Linked DNA regions of Homo sapiens. The protein of the gene in region 4 purifies or fractionates together with the protein of the main gene of each other region. This does not show direct contact. Each region holds a gene or a part of one and is shown on either strand. Other genes may lie near its edges.

What was found.
Region 1: the proteins of ABCF2 (region 4) and GNL1 purify together in Homo sapiens (affinity purification with mass spectrometry, with the first as the bait; 2 studies listed by BioGRID). This does not show direct contact.
Region 2: the proteins of ABCF2 (region 4) and WDR36 fractionate together in Homo sapiens (co-fractionation; one large-scale study listed by BioGRID). This does not show direct contact.
Region 3: the proteins of ABCF2 (region 4) and PPP1R10 fractionate together in Homo sapiens (co-fractionation; one large-scale study listed by BioGRID). This does not show direct contact.
Region 5: the proteins of ABCF2 (region 4) and EIF2S3 fractionate together in Homo sapiens (co-fractionation; one large-scale study listed by BioGRID). This does not show direct contact.
Region 6: the proteins of ABCF2 (region 4) and AHCYL2 purify together in Homo sapiens (affinity purification with mass spectrometry, with the first as the bait; 2 studies listed by BioGRID). This does not show direct contact.

Annotation. Positions count from the first base shown.
Region 1 is NC_000006.12:30,549,990-30,553,489, reverse strand, and holds part of GNL1 (guanine nucleotide-binding protein-like 1), read left to right. Parts: coding exon 1-140; intron 141-310; coding exon 311-406; intron 407-828; coding exon 829-1,023; intron 1,024-3,500. UniProt on the Homo sapiens protein: Possible regulatory or functional link with the histocompatibility cluster.
Region 2 is NC_000005.10:111,098,848-111,102,347, reverse strand, and holds part of WDR36 (WD repeat-containing protein 36), read right to left. Parts: intron 1,760-3,500; coding exon 1,627-1,759; intron 4-1,626; coding exon 1-3. UniProt on the Homo sapiens protein: Part of the small subunit (SSU) processome, first precursor of the small eukaryotic ribosomal subunit.
Region 3 is NC_000006.12:30,610,744-30,614,243, forward strand, and holds part of PPP1R10 (serine/threonine-protein phosphatase 1 regulatory subunit 10), read right to left. Parts: intron 1-3,500.
Region 4 is NC_000007.14:151,214,095-151,217,205, forward strand, and holds part of ABCF2 (ATP-binding cassette sub-family F member 2), read right to left. Parts: intron 1,936-3,111; coding exon 1,873-1,935; intron 1,639-1,872; coding exon 1,510-1,638; intron 989-1,509; coding exon 785-988; intron 98-784; coding exon 1-97. Other genes in the region: ABCF2-H2BK1 (ABCF2-H2B protein), read right to left, coding at 1-97, 785-988, 1,510-1,638, 1,873-1,935.
Region 5 is NC_000023.11:24,071,956-24,075,455, reverse strand, and holds part of EIF2S3 (eukaryotic translation initiation factor 2 subunit 3), read right to left. Parts: intron 2,366-3,500; coding exon 2,193-2,365; intron 1-2,192. UniProt on the Homo sapiens protein: Member of the eIF2 complex that functions in the early steps of protein synthesis by forming a ternary complex with GTP and initiator tRNA.
Region 6 is NC_000007.14:129,228,030-129,231,529, reverse strand, and holds part of AHCYL2 (adenosylhomocysteinase 3), read right to left. Parts: intron 1-3,500. UniProt on the Homo sapiens protein: May regulate the electrogenic sodium/bicarbonate cotransporter SLC4A4 activity and Mg(2+)-sensitivity. On the contrary of its homolog AHCYL1, does not regulate ITPR1 sensitivity to inositol 1,4,5-trisphosphate.

The DNA.
Region 1 (3,500 bases), on a different chromosome or scaffold from region 4:
TTTGAACAAGGTGGATCTGGCCCCGCCAGCTCTTGTGGTTGCCTGGAAGCATTATTTCCATCAACACTATCCCCAGCTCCACGTCGTCCTTTTCACCTCTTTTCCTCGGGACCCCCGCACCCCACAGGACCCTAGTAGTGGTGAGTGGGCAATGAGAGAGGGCAACTTGGGAGAGGTGAGTTGGCAGGGGACAAAGGGGAGAACAGAGAGGCTTATTGACAAGGGGGCACCTGGTCTTGGGCCTAAGGGTGGTGGGAGAGATGAGAGGCCTAAGCCCGTGTGCCCATCCTTTTGTGCCCTCTGATCTCAGTCTTGAAGAAGAGTCGGAGGCGGGGGAGAGGATGGACTCGGGCCCTGGGGCCAGAGCAGTTGCTGAGAGCCTGTGAAGCCATCACTGTGGGGAAAGGTATGTGGCCCTTAGAGGAGGGCTGTAGGAGGACATGGGGGAGACCAAAGATGCAGAATCATTTTGCTCACCTTTCCTGAAGCCAACCCCTCTATGGTGGATATGTGCAAGAGGCCAGGGGAAGGGACAGAATAAGGAGCAGACTGACTTGGTGGGACGAGAGGCAGCAGGTAGTCAGGAGCCTCAGTGGCTTGCTGCCTTTAGCCTTCCCAGTACTTTTCAGAAGCTCAGAGAAACGTGCGTGATTCCAGGGAGGGTAGGGTCAAATGACTTTTGGGAGATTCTCTGACCTGCTCTTATTTAGGTTGGCACTGTACAACTCCAGAGGGTGCCAGTTACATAATCTGTGCAGGGCACAGTATGTGCCATCATGCACAGCAGCCCTGGGGAGAACCTCTTTAATCTTCTCCTTCTTTGAGCAGTGGACTTGAGCAGCTGGCGGGAGAAGATTGCTCGGGATGTGGCTGGGGCCACCTGGGGTAATGGCTCTGGGGAGGAGGAGGAAGAGGAGGATGGCCCAGCAGTCCTGGTGGAGCAGCAGACTGATTCAGCAATGGAGCCAACTGGCCCAACCCAAGAGCGCTACAAGGATGGGGTGGTGACCATCGGCTGTGTGGGTAAGGAAGTGGCAGCTTGTGCGTGGTGGCCTCCAAGGAGGTACAGAGTTTTCATATTCGGAGAAGAGAGAGGGCGATCAGGTCTCATTAGGCCCCAGGGTGTCTGAGGGGTGATCTCTGCCAGTGGCGGTGGGCAAGGCAGAAGAGGCGTCTGCTGCAGTGGAAGGATCATGACAGCCTGAGTTAAATTCCACCTCTTCTCAGCTGTGAGGTCTTGAGTAAGTGATTTTGCTACTCTGAGTCTTAGTTACTTTGATTTTAAAAATAAGGACATTGATACCTGAGTAAAAGAATGGATGACGGCCATGTGTGAGGGCTCATGCCTATATAGTCCCAGCGCTTTGGGAGGCTGAGGTGGGAGGATTGCTTGAGACCAGGAGCTCAAGACTAGTCTGGGCAACATAGTGAAACCCCATCTTTACAAAAGATAAAGAAAACTAGCCAAGTGTGGTGGTATGTGCCTGTAGTCTCTGCTACTTCAGAGGCTGAGGCAGGAGGATCACTTGAGCCCAAGAGTTCAAGGCTGCAGTGAGCTATGATTGTGCCACTGCACTCCAGCCTGGCTGATAGAGACCCTGTCTTTAAAAAAAAAGAATGGATGTGAGGAATGATGGGAATAGTGTTAAGAGAGTGTAAGAATGCCTGACAAATAGTGATAACAATAATAACAATTATTATTGTTAAAACTCAGTATTTATATGGTGCTTACTATGTAACAGGCACTGTTTTAAGTGGTTTATATAAACCATTTGAATTGTAGTAATTAGTCTGTAGTACAGTGATTATCAAATCATAGTAGGAGCTCAGCAAGAATTAGTATTCTTCTAGGTTTTAACCCTTTAAGTTTGTTGCCAAGGAGAATCTCCTCTTAAGGGCTTTGTCTCAGCTCACAGTGGAGGAAAAAGGAATGTATGATTAGGACCCAGGGCCCGTCTTCATTTAGGGTGGGAGAGGTAAGAAGAGACCTTGGACAAGTTATGGTATCTGAGGTGATATTGGAACCAAAAAGGGCCCAACCCAGAATAAATTTGGGAGTGTGGAGTAGGTAGTTGGGTTCCTTGGAAGTGCCCTGACTTATCTCTGTGTCCTTTTTGTCTTTGGAAGAACCTGCCTTACTGCTGAGTGATTGCTCCTCTTTCCAGTCATTTCACCCGGCTGTCCCTTCCCTGACTTCTGATCCTAGTCTCCCTGTCACAAGGAGCCTCTGTTCCCTCTCTTAGCAGCCTCTGCTCTAGCTGATCTCTATTCCAGGTGGTGTGAGAGGGAGAGTGTTTGCTGTGGCACAGGCACCCCTGAGTTTGGATTTCCCTCCAGCTCTCATTCATTTACCCATTCAACAAATATGTACTGAACACTTAACCAGGTGCCAGATATTCTAGGGATGGGACATACTGCTGTGGAAATGGCAAAAAGGTCTGTAGATTCATGGAGCTTATTTTCTTGTGAGTAAATAGATTTTGTGATCCGAAATCATGTAGGGGCAGTGAAGGCAATAAAGCAATGAAAGGGGATAGAGAGTGACTGAGAGGAGAGGTGCTCAGGGAAAACCTCCCTGAGGAGAGAACTGGATGATGAGATGAAGTGAGCCATTCAGAACTGTGGGGAAAGGGTCTTGAGGAGGGAACGGGCTTGGAGATTCTAGGACCAGCAAGAGTGCCCAGGGGATTGGAGTATGGGAGCCAGGATAAAGTACTGGGGATGAGGTCAGCAAGATCACCAGGGCCCACATCATGTAGAGCCCTGAGGCTGTGACAGCCATTTTGGATTTTATTCCAAGTCTCATGAGAAGCCAAGGGTAGGTTTTGAACAGGGGAATGATAGGATCTGATTTTGTTTCTTATAAGTTTACCTCCTGAGTAGAGAATAAATGATGGGGGGTGGGCAAGAAAGGGAGCAGAGAGAGCAGTTGAGGCTATTTCAGTAATCTAGGAGAGAAATAAGAGTTGCTTAGAGTAGGATGCTGGAGCTGGAGGTGGTGAGACAGGGCCGGAAGCATGATATATTTTGAAGGTAGAGAAAATGAGATCGCTGATGGCTTGCAGTTGGCACGTGAAGGAAAGTGAGGATAAAGAAGGACTTCCAGGTTTTTGTCTTGAGCAACTGGAAATACTGAGATGGGAAGACTGGGGGAGAAGCAGATTTGAAGGCTTTGGGGAGGAGAGGGGAATCAGAAATGAAATTTCAGATTCTTTTTAAATATCCCTAGTGGAGATGTTGAATAGGCAGTGGGTAAGTAGTCAGCAGCTTAGGGGAGAGAAGAGGACGGAAATTTGAATTTGGGAAAGATTTAAATTTGGGGAACCATTGATGGATATAAGTGGTATTTAAAGCCACAGGATTAGGCTGGGCACAGTGGCTCATGCCTATAATCCCAGCCCTTTGGGAGGCTGAGGCAGGTGGATCACTTGAGGCCAGGAGTTTGAGACCAGCCTGGCCAACATGGTGAAACCCTGTCTCTACCAAAAAATACAGAAAAT
Region 2 (3,500 bases), on a different chromosome or scaffold from region 4:
TTACTACAAGAAGAAAAATAGTTGAAAGCTGTATTTTTTTTTTTTTGGAGGAAAACAATATCAGCTACACATTAAAAAGTGAAATAATAATAGGTGATATTTATTAAGTTCTTACTCTTCCACACACTATTCTGATGATTAAGCTAATGTCACAAGGTTAGTAATATTGTCCAGACAAATTCTAGGTCTCAAACTAACTACTATGCTATGCCACCTCATTAAGAAATTAAATGTCCTAAGTGGAAAAAAAAATACGTGTGTAAAAATCATGTTATATTACAGGCTACAGTAAAAAAAATTTAGGACTGCAGTATCTTTATAGAAACATCATGAAAGGGAATAACTTATATTTTAATAAAAATATTATTTGCATGTTATATGACTGTTATATGACAACAGTAATGCTGCTCTCAATTTCAGAAGCAAGTCATGAATGATAAATAACACATCCATGGAGCAAACAGAGGTATCTGAAATCATTATAATTATCATTAAAATATTAAATCATGTATTAAATTCTGTAAATGGGCAAAGACAGTATTTCAGTCACTATTGCTGAACCTAGCACAAAGTAGGCAGTCAATGGTATTTGTTAAATTGTAATGAAACACTGATTTAAAACATCAAACCTTTAATAATCTTATTTTCCCTTTTGAATTTAAAAGGACTTTGGAAAAAAACAATTTGGATGGTCAAATATTTTTGTTTGCTTTTTAAAATGCTATACAAAGAAGTGTGAGCTGCCACCTTTTTCTACTGATAAATGTTTACATAATGGATAGAAGTATTCAAAATCATGTATCCAGCCCTCTAGCTACATCAATATTAGATATTTGCCATATCTATGGGAGATTATGGAAGTACTTTTAACCCTAAAAATCATTTCTAAATGCTAGCACTAAATTATTGATTTGCCTTTCCATCTTTTACCTTCTTCATGTATAGAAAATCTTCATGTATGGAAAATCAGAAGCTCCCTAGTAATAATCTCATTATTATTATTTTCTGATGGATCTCATAGACCTTTATTAGAGCCTTCTCTATAGCAATTCTTTACAGTTATTAGGTCATTAGTACATACTTTTCAGTGAGCATTTATGAAGCTGTCTAACATGTGTCAGGATCACATGCCACCTTTCACATATGTGATGCCACCAGCAACAACTCCAAAAGCAAACATATAGTTATATCTCACTACCTGTGGGGGATTGGTTCCAGGACTTCCCCAACTTCTCTGCTGATACCAAAATTCACAGATGCTCAAGTCCCTTACATAAAATGGTGTGGTATTTGCATATAACTTTCACACATTTATGCATATACTTTAAATAATCTCTAGCTTACTTATAAGACCTAATATAATGTAAATACTATGTAAATAGCTGTTATACTGTACTACTTTAAAATGTGATGTTTTATTGTTGTATTATTATTTATTTATTTTTCCTTGAATATTTTTGATCCCAGGTTAATTGACTCCTCTGATACAGGGGACCAACTGTTATTTATAGACAACCCTCCAAATAAATATACAAGGGCAGGGAGAAATGAGACTTAAGTATACATTAGGAAGTAGTAGATGAGGATAAGGTGACAGCTATATTATTTTCTAACTAAAATACTTACTTGGATTTTACATTCCACAACTGCAGGCTTCCTTGTTCACTGCCCAGAAGTATTTTATTCAAGTAGGTACTTGGATGCAAAATTGCAGAAATTTTAAATACTGATTTATCAAAAGTCAACTGCAGGTATTCTTCTACAAAAGTGAAAGTTATAAATATTTTTTATAAAATAGTTTAAAATGTTTTATGTAACCATATATTTATCACTTAAAGTAAGTCTATCACATCAAAGATTTATATGTTAAAATAAACCACAGACTTAGATACTAATCTATAAACATTCCTTGAGAAATAAAATAAATGAGAGGCAACTTGTAAATGTAATTTAATTTAGACTGTCAAAAATTTTCTGTAACTTCTAATAAAAATACTATTAAAAGTTTCATTCACTTTTGAATTACTTTACAGAAAAGGATAATAAAGTTAAAAAAAAAAGATCCTAAGGATTAGCATTCATGTTTCTGTAATTTGATCAACAGACAGGAGTGAATATTCCAAGTGAAGTGCTTATACTTAGCTCTTTCAGGGAACGAAGAGCCAATTATCTGGAAAGTTTGATGGGCCACTCAAAAAATGCCAAAAATAAAAGACACACCTCAGTGAAATAAGAGTACTTCTCACACATTTCCACAAAATAATCTCTAATAAAGGAGAAAAAAAAAACGTATAACCCTGTGGAGTGGGGGGTGGCATCACCAGTGGTCACTTGCTCCAAGATAAAAAAATTCTCTGAAATCTTTGGTTACATTCAAAATTTCTATGTTTGAATTCTGCTTTTCACTTTACAGTTCCTCCATGATTAAAACAATGTTCCACTCTATTTTCCAGTAAATTTGTGTATCAAAGAAGGTACATTTCACTTAATCTTTAGGTTCACATACTATCTGGCACACTACTGTACAATCCCAGGGTATGGGTACCACAGTTTAGGATGTACAGGTATAGGTGAAAATTATATAAACTTTACTTTGAATGCTATTTTAAGAGATCCTTGCCTTTATTCGTCAGTCACTACAAATGGCTCCCTGAATATACTGGTTCAAGAGAGTCTGCTGGAATGTAAGAACCAGATCCTGTAACCTAATAAAAGCCCTTTTAACTTCTATCTGCACAGGGAATACTTTTGGAATTCTGTTCCCTCCCTCTACTTGAGCAAAAACAAAACAAGAAAAGGGTTACTAATCTGAAACAAGAACCTGGAATAATTCCCAGAAATGCAATCTTCAGGATATTTACTGAAAAAAAAAAAAAAAAAAAAACAAAAAAAAAAACAAAAAAAAACCAAGAGGCAATATAAGCTAAAAATGTAACCAGATTAAAGAACTTAAAAGATTCAATTCATGATGAACCCAGTATTTTATTGAGGAAAGGTGTAGATATCCTAGGGATAAATTCTTCATGTTTAAAGATACATAATCCCATAAACATAGCCACTGTCTAAGCTATCACAGTTGAAAGAAACTGACTCATATCCCTAGGAAATGGATGTATATTTTCCTTCAGATTACAAGATCAAGTTTACTATTACAGTCTCCTTTACTAAAAGGTGAAAATACAAACCAAGAATTACTCAGGTATGAAAATACATCAATATTCACTCCACAGGGAAAACAATACAACAAATCATTAAAGTTGGAGAACTGCAATGGAAAATACATTAGTTGAGGTAAGCACATTAAACAGTTTATAAGTAGTTAACTTGCTAAAGTTGTTTATCTCTTTCTTACTTAGAACTTTTTTTCTTACACGTTAAAGATTTTTGATTTTTTTAATTTCTTACTATTTACAGGCAAAATCTCTGGCATAGATGTTTACATAGATTTTAAATTTTAATTAAACACATACTACCCTAAGATAAAGCAAATAAATGAGTTA
Region 3 (3,500 bases), on a different chromosome or scaffold from region 4:
TCTCCTCAAAAATCACGCTGTACAAGATCCCCTAGGAAAGCCTAAAACTGAAAACCATGGAACCTAAAAAGGGAACAGATAAAGCCAAATGCTAGAAAAATTCCCTTTTAAGCAGCTGTTTTAGACCAGGTTGGGAAGGGAATTAGTTAAAAGCTAAGCTCCTTTTATGGAAGGGACAAGCCAGAACTGAAGTTCCAGAAAGGTAATTTAGGATCAATATGGTTCTGATTGGGATTTTTATCTACACTGCCTCTAAATACTTGCTTCTAAGACCCAAAAAAGAGGCTGGGTGCAGTGGCTCATGCCTGTAATCCCAGCACTTTGGGAGGCCAAGGTGGGCAGATTCCTTGAGCGCAGGAGTTTGAAACCAGCCTTGGCAACATGGCGAAACCTCATCTCTACAAAACATAAGTCGAGTGTGATGGTGTGCACCTGTAGTCCCAGCTACCCGGGAGGCTGACGTGGGAAAACGGGAGGACTGCTTGAGCCCAGGGATACTGAGGCTACAATGAGCTGTGATTGTGCCACTGCACTCCAGCCTGAGAGACAGAGTAAGACGCTGCCTCAAAAACAAACAAACAAAAAACCACCAAAAAAGAAAGCCACTTCAGCAATATCTGCCTTTGGGCAATAAGGCCCACACTGAGTAGCAAGGAAGAGGCAAGAACAAAACCTTCCTCATCCTACATCTAGCACAGAAGTAACAGACACAATCCCAGCAGAAGGGTAGAAAAATCAGTATTTTACAAAGATGAGTAGTTTTGTGCCGGAAAAAACACAGGTTTCTTGTAAGACAATGCAAATTAGTTCTACTTGTTCTCAAACAAAAGAAAAAACATAGCATAACAATCTCAGCCTTTTTGTCCTCCCAACAAAAACGTCAGTAAGTTTCCAAATGTGTAGGTCCTAACAACCTAGGCGAGCAGCAGCAGAAGCAGGGAGGAGGCAGCCAGGAAGGGTAGGAGTATAATCTTGGCTCTGGAGATCATAACCTGTGGGCTGAACAGAGGGAGAGATGAGGCAAGAAATGTTGAGAAGTCGCTGCTGCCCTGGAACCTCCACAAATACAAGTGGAACCTGAGGTCAGAGAAAAAACATTCAAGGAGAATACTGGAAAAGATTAGATGTCCGTGGGCCAAATCCACTCAAGTGTGGTGATTCCTACACACACAGAGACAGACACAGAAATAAAGGTATTCTTCCCATGTAGTGAGATACTATAAAGTGATCTATAGAAACTATAAAGAGATACGATAAAGGGACACATAAAACAGATATCACATCTGTTGGAGACTGGAAAAGCAATGTATGGGTTCCAATAACAACATATCATAAGCAATCAAGAGACTAAGAAATTTTTAAAACTCCCTCTCTCTATATATACACACATACCTACCATTAGATTCCTAAAGCAAAATATATGCAATTTGACAAAAGGCCTTGAATTAAACATCATTTCAAACCAGTTACCCTTGACTGATTCAAACCCAGAGTTGAATATATATAACCCTGGAGAATTCCTTTTTGCATATCCAACTACAAGCTAAGCCAATAAATAGACCTACTACCCCTATTTCCTTCAGACACTAAATAAACTGTCATCTGAGCTCAAGTGTTCCTTAAGAGGATGGGAGACAAGAAAGAAGAGCCAGTCTTAGAAAAATGGACCAATGAGTACAAAGCTAAATTCTGTCCAGTGCCCTCTGCTGGAAATGGGATCCAGGGACTTTTTTATTCCCACATGTATAAACAAGAATAAAAGACATTAATAGTCAAAGGGAAGCTAAGAGACAAAGCAAAATTAGCGTTAAATATTCATTTTCCACTACTTATATTTTGGAAATATAAGTGAAATTTTGTCTCATGAGCACCAATCTTGATAAAATGTAAGTGGGTTTTCTCATGATGGCCTTCCTTCAGGAAGATTAGTTCTTATTTAAAATTAAGGACCCCAAGTGTCTTATAACCTAGTTTCCTTGCTTTGAAGTCAGTATATTTTGGAAAAAAACCAAACAATTTCCAAGGCGCTCAAGTGGAAAGGAATGTAAAGTCCAACATTTCGGGCACAGGGCTACAGCAGAGAAGGCAAACTGAGTTGATGAAGGCAGGCAGGGGCCGTGACTAAGTGTTGTAACATTACCTACTCAAGATCTGGAGTCTAGAATGAAAGCTTAAGAAAGCTTTCTGGAACCACAAGTAATCCACGGCATGATTATGTCTTCTTTTAATGAGCTGCTATTTTCTTGACTGCAGAACATACAGAAGGTGGGGAGTGAGGTAGCAACCCCCTGGCCTACCTCCACCTCATCCTAAGCTATGCGTTCCTTATGGAGAATGTTTCAGGCAGAGCCATACTCTACTGGCACAAGGCATTGGGGAATTTTCTACCATTTTTACCAGAGATAAACGTCTGTGACACCAACTCCTGCCTTCAAAATGAATTTTACTTGAGGGTTATTCAATTAAATAGGGTGAAAAAATATCCAGCATAGCTAAAGTTATTCCACACCCATCACCAATGAAACAGGACTGAATTGGTTCAGGATAAAAATTCTGTGCAAGTCAGAGCTCTTTAAAAAATAACTGTCTTCTAACAAAAGGAGAAAAAAGTCCCAAATTTACCTTAATTTAGAGGCACTTCTGGAAATGAAAATGATTTGTACCTAACCCCTTATGTTCCCCTTCCTTTCTTCAGTGTTTTAGGCACTTCCTAGTTTGACACAATAGTGGACTGAATTATGTCTCTCAGGTGATTCATCACAAGGTCATAGCTTTCTTCCAAGTAGTAAGCCCCTACCCCTCAGTCATTTTGCAAACCTGATACATGAGCTCCTCAAAAGCTTATCTGCCTTCCAATAAAGATGCAAAATGATATACCACCCTGACTCATAGAAAAAGACCCCAGACTAGAACTCTGGCCACAAACTACAAGGATCAGGTTTTCCAAGATTTTCTGAATGGATGTGGTTCCCCTAGTAGACCTGGCTTCCCATCTCCCATGTTAAGGAAGATCTTCTTTATTAATCCCCTGGCTCACTAGAGATCAGGAACCCCAGTGGGTAGAATGTTCAGCTCCCAAGGAAGATATGCTGCAGAGGCACATGGCAAACTGCTTAAAAGAAAAAAACAAAACAAAACAAAAAAAGCTTGTAGTCAACAGACATGTGAAGAGTCCCTCCCATCCAATCCAGAAGCTTAAGTAATAATTTGAGAATCTGTACCCAGTAGGAAGTTAGCCCTAAGTCTCACCCAGGTCACCAGAGGGCAGTTATACTTTCCAATTCTGCCTAGAACCTCCACGCTTCAGTGCAGGACTTTTAAAAATTAAAATTATATGGAGAGTCTGATAAAGATTTGACTTTGAAAAATTTGGGGGAAGAAAGGAACCAGACACCCAATACCACCCTCAGATAGGGCATGGCTTCTGAACATGCACCAAATGCCACAGCACTGCATGAGTTGAAAAATGAAGAGGACATCATTTTTTCATTAATGCTTTT
Region 4 (3,111 bases):
CCACCAGCTTGGACTTGAGGTGCTCCTTGTAAGCCAGGATGTCTCCAGGCCACTTGGTGATTGTCTGCTTCTCACAGACCCAAATTTCCTGTGCAACCTAGAAAGCAAAACCTGGACTTAATCCTGGGCTAGTCACTGTCCCTGCCTCTGCCCAGCAGACTGTCCTGAGGGGCGTCTAGGAAGAAAACTCCGCCCCCCAAACCCATATCCAACTCACTGTCTCACTACTTCTAAGTTATTTGGGATGTTCTAACCCAAGGGTACCATCATCAGGTTTGGAGCCTTCCAAGCCAGGAACTGCTGTGTCACTCCTATTGTCAGCTCCCTGGCAGGGCCTAGATCTATTCAGAGGCTTCACTCTCAGCCTTCTTTTCTCCACCTCTCATCTTCCCCAGAGCTTCAGAGGAATGAGCAACAACTTTTTCTCAAATGACTGTGGTAGCTGTCTAATCAAAATCCTCCTTAGAATACTATTTTTGGACTGAAGAATCTTGGGACAGTAGTAAAAGCACCGTTTTCTACCCAACTCTCTTTCCCATTTGGGCCCAAAATGCTAAGTTGGTTGACATCTCCAGATAGCTACTGAAGAAATGAAGTGTTTCAGTTAAGGCTTTCTAAGTAGCCCCAAAGAGGCATAAGAACTGGTCCTCACCACCTGTGTCTACACTCTGAGCCCCTTCTCTTAATTCAGTAGGCGGGTATTATGCACCCTCCACATGCCATGACTACCCTACCCAACCCCCTAGAAGCTCTGCTGTGCCTCACCCCCTGGCCAGGGCCTCACCTGCTGAATGAGTCTGAAGTCATGGCTGACCAGCATCATACCACCCTCAAACTCATTGATGGCATCTGCCAGGGCGTCGATGGTCTCGATATCCAGGTGATTGGTGGGTTCATCCAGGAAGAGCATGTGGGGGTTCTGCCAGGCCAGCCAGGCCAGACACACTCGGCACTTCTGCCCGTCTGACAAGTTCCGGATTGGGCTCACCTGAGTAGAACCGTGACCTACATATAACTTGGCATTATCCCCGCCAAACAGCACAGCTCATCTCTCCCTCATTTCTCCCTGACTCCTCCATTAGCATCGCCATTTATAAAAAGTGAGGCTCAGAGAGACCCACTAGTCTCTTGAGGCCTGAAAGAGACTCATCCGGAAACCTGAAGCCCTTGCCATTACTAAGCCCACACCTCTCGCTCTCTTGGCAATGAATTGGATCCTTCCAGATCTGAATCCAGAAATTTGTTTTCTAGATTACAAGTTCCTTTGCCCTCAAGCACTATGGCACAAGGGCATGTCAGAGACTGGCACGCTATCCTTGCCCCCTCAAAATGCTCCATTACATAACAACCTAGAGTAAAGAAAAGGTAGTAGGTTCTTAGGGGAGTCAAATGGAGGAGACTCTGGTTTGGACAGCTTCCAAACCCAGGCTGCCAGGACAGTATCCCCTGACCCACCCAGCCACAGTCTGCCAGCTATCTGGCATCCTCACCACACCCTCCTTTACTGACCTGTTGTTTCCCAGTGAGACCGTATCGCCCAATGATCTTCCTCATTTCTTCCTTCTCCTTGATCTCTGGGTAGCACTTCATCATGTACTCCAAAGGTGAGAGATCTAAGTCCAGCTGCTCTTGTAAATGCTACAGGAAAAATGGAAGCCACCCGGGTGTGACTGGCATCCCGCTTCAAAATAAACCCTACTAGGTAACTTCCTATTTCTATCCCAGGCACCTGTTCTGGGTTCAAGAAGCAGGTAGGAGCCACCTAGGCTGGAATTCCTGCCAGGGGGTGGGGGCGGCTGGCTGGAACTCAGCCAGATACAGCCCCTCCCTATACCCTGGGCAATTCCCCGGATCCCAACCCCAGGCCTGTACCTGATGGTAACGCCCTATCTTGACATGAGAGTGTTTTCGGATCATGCCATCTGTGGGTAGTAGCTAGGAAGAAAAAAGTAGAAACGTAAGCATGAAACAAAGGAAGCCCAGTTAGAAACATAGGCAGAGCAGGCAAACAAACACATGTTCACACTGAACAAGACTCAACTTCCTAAAAAGAATACATCACCAACTCGCACACTGCTATTCTGGCCACTCTAAAAATATTTAGGAAGATGTACTGAAGCAGATGTTCTCAAGAGGCAAAGATACAATTTAAGTAGTTATAAAATGTCTACTGAATGCACTATGCTGTATAACAAAGGACTTGGATGTAGGTGCAACATACATTTTCTAAAATTAAAAACAGTTAAGTCCTCAAAGTTGTCACTGTCATCGATAGGTTCTTAGAAACAGAACCTATTTTAAAGTTTCACTTTAAGTGAAACAACATATAGCAAAACTAATTTTGCCACAGGCTAACTGATATAAACAAGAATTAGGTTCCTGCAGCATTTTTGGTCACAAAAAAAGATCACCAAACTTCTAAATAAAGATCCAAAGATTCTTTTCTTTAAGAGGGAGTCTCGCTCTGTTGCCCAGGCTGGAGTGCAGTGGCGAGATCTCGACTAACTGCAACTTCTCTGTCCCAGGCTCAAGAGATTCTGGAGTAGCTGGGATTACAGACACCCGCCACCACACCTGGCTAATTTTTTTTTTGCATTTTTAGTAGAGAGGGGGTTTCACCATGTGGCCAGGCTGGTCTCACACTCCTGATCTCAAGTGATCTGCCTGCCTCGGCCTCCCAAAGCACTGGGATTACAGGTGTGAGCCACGGCACCTGGCCAAAAAACCCAGTCACTTCTAATATTCAACATCAAAATACATGTGAGCTATACATACACTTAAGAAAGATTAATAAAAACAAGGTAAGATATTTACCCAATTTTTGGTGAATCAGTGAGTGATGGCAATTTTAAGAGTGGTGGGTTAAACCAAGGAATAAATGTTTGCAAAGGGAAAACTGTAAGGAGCACCTCCTACCACCACACAGTTAAAAAATAATCACGAATGTGGCTGGTTTGCTGACTGCATTTGTATGGTTATCATAAACTTTATGAATTTTTCTTTTACAATATTTTATATTCATTCATTCTATCATTTTCCAACCTGCTTATTCAAGTTTAGGATCATGGGCAGCTGGAGCCCATCCCACAACCCAGGGAACAAGACAAGAAC
Region 5 (3,500 bases), on a different chromosome or scaffold from region 4:
GTGGTATGGACTGTGATGAGGTGACGAGGAATGGAAAGCAAGGGGCAAACTCAATAACCTGGGAAAGAGCAAAAAGTCAGGAGCCAAAAATGTGTGTATGCTTCCTGGCTCTATGCTCTCAAAAGACCTAGAAGCAACAGCACCCTAAGAGCCATGAGCACACCTGAACACTCAGCTTTTCATTTATAAGAGAAATGGCCAGTTCTAAAACTGGAACAGAGAAGGTACAAGATGAGTCTGGAAGATTTTGTGCCAGAAAATAAGGAAATGTTCCAAAAAAAAGAAGAAAGAGGTCAGGCGTGGTGGCTCATGCCTGTAATCCCAGCACTTTGGGAGGCCAAGGAGGGCGGATCACCTGAGGTCGGGGGTTAAAGACCAGGCTGGCCAACGTGGTGAAACCCCGTCTCTACTGAAAATACAAAAATTAGCCGGGTGTGGTGGCGTGTGCCTGTAGTCCCAGCTACTCGGGAGGCTGAGGCAGGAGAATTGCTTGAACCTGGGAGGCAGAGGTTGCAGTGAGCTGAGATCATGCCACTGCATTCTACCCCGGCGACAAAGCAAGACTCCATCTCAAAAAAAAAAAAAAAAAAAAAGAAGAAGAAAAAAAAATGATGAGTACATGTCAAAAGGACACAAGAGCCAGCCTGAAGGACCTCCACTGGCCAAACGTCGAACAATGCACATCAAAATAAAGGAAGACAGTGATGGATCATAACATGTTGAATAAAATAGGACTCCATGAGTCCATATTATAACTAGATAGGGAAATAAATAATGGCAAAGAAAGAATGCCAAATGATAAATGTGGGGTGGTAGAGTTGAGGGAGGATACTGCAACCCGTAGAGGTGCTATGATTTTGTAATCATTATAGTCAAGTTCGATTCAGGCAAGAATCATCAGTGGATGCTACATCCAGGGGTGTGGGATTCAATGATCAGCAGGCTATTTGTACTGGCTAGAAAGATCTCCCTACAGATTGCTTATTAGTTGCAAGGGTAGAGAGTAACTACACAGCAGAGAAGCTGGACAACATCTTGACTACATAGTCAAAACTAACCTTAACAAAGAGGAGCAGTCAGATATCATGTGCCTCTAGCTGTGATTCCTGAAAAGGAGACTTCACGGTGTATTTAAGTTAAGAATATATAACTGAATCTAATGTTAGGCTTCCGAATGATAAGAAAAACCCAAATTGAGGAATATTCTATAAAGTAACTAGTTTGTATTCTTCAGAACTGTTAATGTCAATTAAGACAAAGGCTGAAAAAGCTCCAGATTAAAGATCAAAGAGACATGAAATTAAATGCAATTCAAGATTCTAAACAGGAGGAACATAAAGTACATTATTGGGACAAGTAATAAAACTGAAACATGCACTGTAGATTTCAGTATTTTGCCAATGTTAAATTTCTAAGTGGTTACATAAGAATATCCTTTTTTGATGGGAAATATACACTGAAGTATTAAGAGATCAAGAAGCATAACATATATAGCCTACACTCAAATGGTTCAGAAAAAAACTTATATATGTAAATAAATCTGTATGTGTGTTTGTCAATCTAGGAAAAAGCTATAGAGGAGTTTTCTGTAAAACTCTTACAATTTTTCTATTAAGTGTGAAATGATTTCCAAAGCCAATGACGATAGAAATACCGAACCCAAATTCATTTGGTTTTGCATAGGTTGTGTCTAACAGGAAGAGAAGCCAATCACAGTATTTGGACTAAAATATGGGACTATAGTCAAGGTTGTAGTTTTTTCTGAGACGGAGTCTCGCTCTGTCGCCCAGGCTGGAGTGCAGTGGCGCCATCTCGGCTCACTGCAAGCTCCGACTCCCAGGTTCACGCCATTCTCCTGCCTCAGCCTCCCGAGTAGCTGGGACTACAGGCGCCCGCCACCACGCCCGGCTAATTTTTTGTATTTTTTAGTAGAGACGGGGTTTCACCATGTTAGCCAGGATGGTCTTGATCTCCTGACCTCATGATCCACCCGCCTAGGCCTCCCAAAGTGCTGGGATTACAGGCGTGAGCCACCGCACCCGGCCGAAGTATAGTTTTCAAAGTCATCCAAATAAATAGTTGAGACTGAAAGCCACAGTAACTGTTGTCCTCAAGGAAGATTGTGTGCTTTTTTTTCTGTACAAGACTGTGTCTTTTTTTAATTAGACAGTGGCAAAGACTAACAAACTTACCGCCAGTGTTTTTCAACTCTTCGGCTAAGGGCAATTTTTTCTCCTACCTCTGTGCACACTGGATTGGTCAAAACAATTTTACCCAAATCGGCCTTGACAGCACTAACTCTCCCTCCTGTTGACAGGGATCCTATGTTCACCATGAGCACTTCATTCTTAGACAGCTTTTGAACCTAGAAAAATAAATTAGGGAAAAATAAACCCCAAAATCAAGAAAATGCTTTCCAAATGTAAGTAAGAATTTACCAAATACTATTGGGAAATATGTCAATCATAAAAAAAATTCTATAGAAATTTCATTGTAAAGGAATTTGAACTATATATAGTATAGTTTATTTGGCACCCACTGAATTTACACAAGATCTACCTTTAAAAAATAGGGTAGTAACCGTACCAGAGTACCTCTTAAAATTCTGAAGCAGTTACCTAGTACAAATGAGGTACAAAATTTCCCAAAGAGGGGAGCATGAAGGACTATGGCTATATAAGAGTTAATATGGGCCAGGCGCAGTGGCACACGCCTGTAATCCCAGCACATTGGGAGGCCGAGGAAGGCAGATCACCTGAGTGGGGGGAAAAAAAAGCATGATAGCTTATTTTCCTCAATCTTTGCCAACACTAGGTGTCAGCAATTTCCCATCTCTGCCAACCTAATCTGGGACATTTTTTAAAAATCATGAAGCTGGGCGCAGTGGATCACACCTGTTAATCCCAGCATTTTCGGAGGCTGGGGTGGGCAGATTGCTCAAGCCCAGGAGTTGGAGATCAGCCTGGGTAATGCGGCAAAACTCCGTCTCTACAAAAAATACAAAATTAGCCAGGCGTGGTGACCCACACCTGTAGTCCCAGCAACTCAGGAGGTTAAGGTGGGAGGATGGCTTGAGCTGGGAGATCGAGGCTGCTGTGAGTCGAGATCGCACCACTGCACTCCAGCCTGGGCAACAGAGCAAGACTCTGTCTCAAAATAAACAACAAAACAAAAATATGGATTTTAGGAATATCATGTCTTTGTCATAAATGGCTAATACTTTTCCCTGTTTATTAAGTTTCTTTCTTAAACTAACTGCCATATAGTTCTCAATTTTGGCCGGACGCAGTGGCTCATGCCTGTAATCTCAGCACTTTGGGAGGCCAAGGCGGGCGGATCACTTGAGGTCAGGAGGTCAAGTCCAGCCTGGCTAACATATAGTGAAACCCCATCTCTACTAAAATATACAAAAATTAGCTGGGCGTGCTGGTGCGTGCCTGTAGTCCCATATACTTGGGAAACCGAGGCAAGAGAATTGCTTGAACCCAGGAGGTGGAGGT
Region 6 (3,500 bases), about 22 Mb from region 4:
AAACAAAAACCACCATGAAACAAACTGCATATTCTTTATAAACTTGACAAAGGGTCTGAATAAAGATTACAACAAACTTTTTTTCTCTCGTGGGGGAGGGAATCACTTCCAAGGAAATGATATAATAAACTCACTCTCCCTTTTTAATGAACTATCGATTTCTTCAATTAACTGGATACTGAGAATGTAGGTAGTACTAGTAGTAGTAGTAGTAGTAATTGTCTTCCTCAAGACATCAAACACACAACTGCAACTTCAGCTCCTAAAGCAGCTTTTTTTTTTCTTTTTTTTGAGACAGAGTCTCATTCTGTCGCCAGGCTGAAGCGCGGTGGCATGATCTCGGCTCACTGCAACCTCCACTTCCCGCATTCAAGCATTCAAGTGATTCTCCTGCCTCAGCCTCCTGAGTAGCTGGAACTGTAGGAGTGCACCACCATGCCCAGCTAATTTTTTGTATTTTTAGTGGAGACAGGGTTTCACCACATTGGCCAGGATGGTCTTGATCTCTTGACCTCATGATCTGCCCACCTCAGGCTGCTTTCTCAGAAAATAAATGCTCACAAAAACACACGGTAAGACCTTCAACCACGCAATAAATAAAAAGAAACTGTCAGTGCAATAACAAAAAAACTACCCAAAAAACACAGATTAAGATTTAGGGCCAGGCGTGGTGGCTGACGCCTGTAATCCCAGCACTTTGGGAGGCTGAGGCAGGTGGATCACGAGGTCAGAAGTTCACGACCAGCCTAGACAATATGGTGAAACCTCGTCTCTACTAAAAATACAAAAATTAGCCAGGCGTGGTGGCGTGCACCTGTAGTCCCAGCTACTCGGGAGGCTGAGGCAGAAGAATCACTTGAACCCGGGAGGCAGAAGTTGCAGTGAGCCAAGACCGCACCACTGCACTCCAGCCTGGGCAACAAAGCAAGACTCCATCTCAAAAAAAAAAAAAAAAAGATTTAGAAGGTTCATCCTGAGTTTCGAACAGAGTACTATTTGAATTGAAAAGCAACAGTTTAGGGCTCTGTTAGTTCCATCACATTACCGTGTAACCTTGAGACAAATTCCTTAATCTCTTCGACACTCAGTTTCTTCAATAAAACAAGGAGAACACTAGCTATCTTCGAGGCCTCTTAAAAGAATTAAATAGCCGGGCGCGGTGGCTCATGCCTGTAATCCCAGCACTTTGGGAGGCTGAGGCGGGTGGATCACGAGGTCAGAAGATCGAGACCACCCTGGCTAACTTGGTGAAACCCAGTCTCTACTAAAAATTAAAAAAATCAGCCGGGTGTGGTGGCACACACCTGTAGTCCCAGCTACTCAGGAGGGCAAGACAGGAGAATCGCTTGAACCCAGGAGGCGGAGGTTTCAGTGAGCCGAGATCGCCACTGCACTCCAGCTTGGGTGACAGAGCGAGACTTGGTCTCAAAAAAAAAAAAAAAAAAAAAAAGAATTAAATAAAACAGTATATGTAAAGCTCTAAGTACAATGCCTGGTATACAGTAGGAATATTCTTCCCTTTGCAATTTTCAAAAGCTCTTATCAAAGATTGACTCATAGAGATGGTGAGGCTTAAAGAATAGGGAAAAAGTGTTAGCTGAACAGGAAGAAAGGGTATATTCCTCAGGTACTCCAAATTTATTTATAACTTTTAAAATATGGATAAATTTCTCAGATTATCAGTAAATTACCAGTGTGAAGCTGCATCATTGATCTTGAAATGCTTTTCTGTATAAGATGCTTTTATTCTCCTCTTCTAAATTTACAATTCTTTCAAGTTCTACATTTGTACAATTTTCTCCCATCCTCTTCCTAAAGCTCTAACTCAGACCTGCCTTACTTTGGTCTTGGGATGACCTAAGCCTTAGCCAGACAGACACGCCTTAGAGTTCACTTAGTATTCTAAAAGACCTCTGGGAGAAAGCAAGAACTCAGCATCTAAGAAGTTAGAATCACTGTGGCATAATGAAAAGGACATGGGCTTTGGAGACGGACAGCCCTGGATTTAAGTTCTACCTCTGACACTTTCTAGATGTATAACCTTGGGCAAGGCACTTAACCTCCCAGGATCTCATTTCTGCATCTATAAAATGGAAATAATGCCACCTACATCTCATAGTATGGTTGTGAGGATTACAGAACCCCTATGACAACTCCTGGCACATAAAAGGCTAATGGCTCACATCTGTAATCCCAGCACTTTGGGAGGCCGAGGCAGGCAGGTCACCTGAGGTCGGGAGTTTGAAAGCAGCCTGACCAACATGGAGAAACTTCATCTCTACTGAAAATAGAAAATTAGCCGGGCATGGTGGTGCATGCCTGTAATCCCAGCTACTCAGGAAGCTGAGGCAGGGGAATCGCTTGAACCCGGGAGGCGGAGGTTGCGGTGAGCTGAGATTGCACCATTGCACTCCAGCCTGGGCACCAAGAGTAAAACTCTGTCTCAAAAAAAAAAAAAAAAAAAAAAAGGCTAATTATTGGTAACTATTATTACAGACCAACTGCCAATTGCCTTACTGAACACTTTTCAGAGCAGTACTCTTGTAACAGGCAAAAGGAGTCATACTGCTACCACATTCCCATGTCTTTATCCAAAACATTCCATTTTAGTACTCTATAATTAACCAAATCAAGAGCTTAAACAATTCAGGACAAGAAGTGCTAACATGGCTCAACTCATTCTCTCCTGACAGCAACAAAGCCAGTGGAAGGTGGATATGTTTGCCAAAAGCAATAAAGGGTCTGTTTGAACACGGTCATTACTGATACTGATGTAAGCACAATCTAGTTGAGGTTCTTGGGCTTGCAGCCTTATTGTCAGAAAGTTTTAATATTTCTGAAATAAATCCTCTCCTGCCTTGTTTTCCCTGCTGTGCGCCAACACTCCTATCACTCATTTTCAAGAACACAAGGAAGAAATCCCTTTCAGCTAGTACTACCTCATTCCCTGTGGAACTTACCTTCCCATTTCCCAAATTACTTCTTATAGAGATTTTTGGCTTGCTGGGTTCACTTGATGTCAACTTATGAAAAAGGACACTATAATTAAATATATCATAGCCACATAACATGATCTGGCCCCCAGAGCATCGCAAGTTACAGGACGGAGGCAGGTGCCAAAGATAAGATGTGATTGAGTAACCTGCACACCATATGTTCCTTCTTATTAACTACTGCACTTGGGAATTCTGGCTCTTGTAAAAAGTTTATTCCCCTTGTGTGGCTGAGCAGAGTAACAAAACTAAGAAAACTGATGATATGTGAATGAAGTAAGGAAAACCATCTATGGAAATGTGACTTAAAATAAATGTTTATACATGAAAGTTAAAAAACAAATGCAACAGTCACCAGTTCCACAGCCAAAGGCAGCTATTTCAATACTAGTATTCTCAGTTCCTTCATATGCTATAAGAAAAACAGTAAGGAGTCAAGGTCAAAGTGGTTATTTACATAGACAATCTAAGAATCAACAAAGGCTCAACAAATCAAAATGTCACACT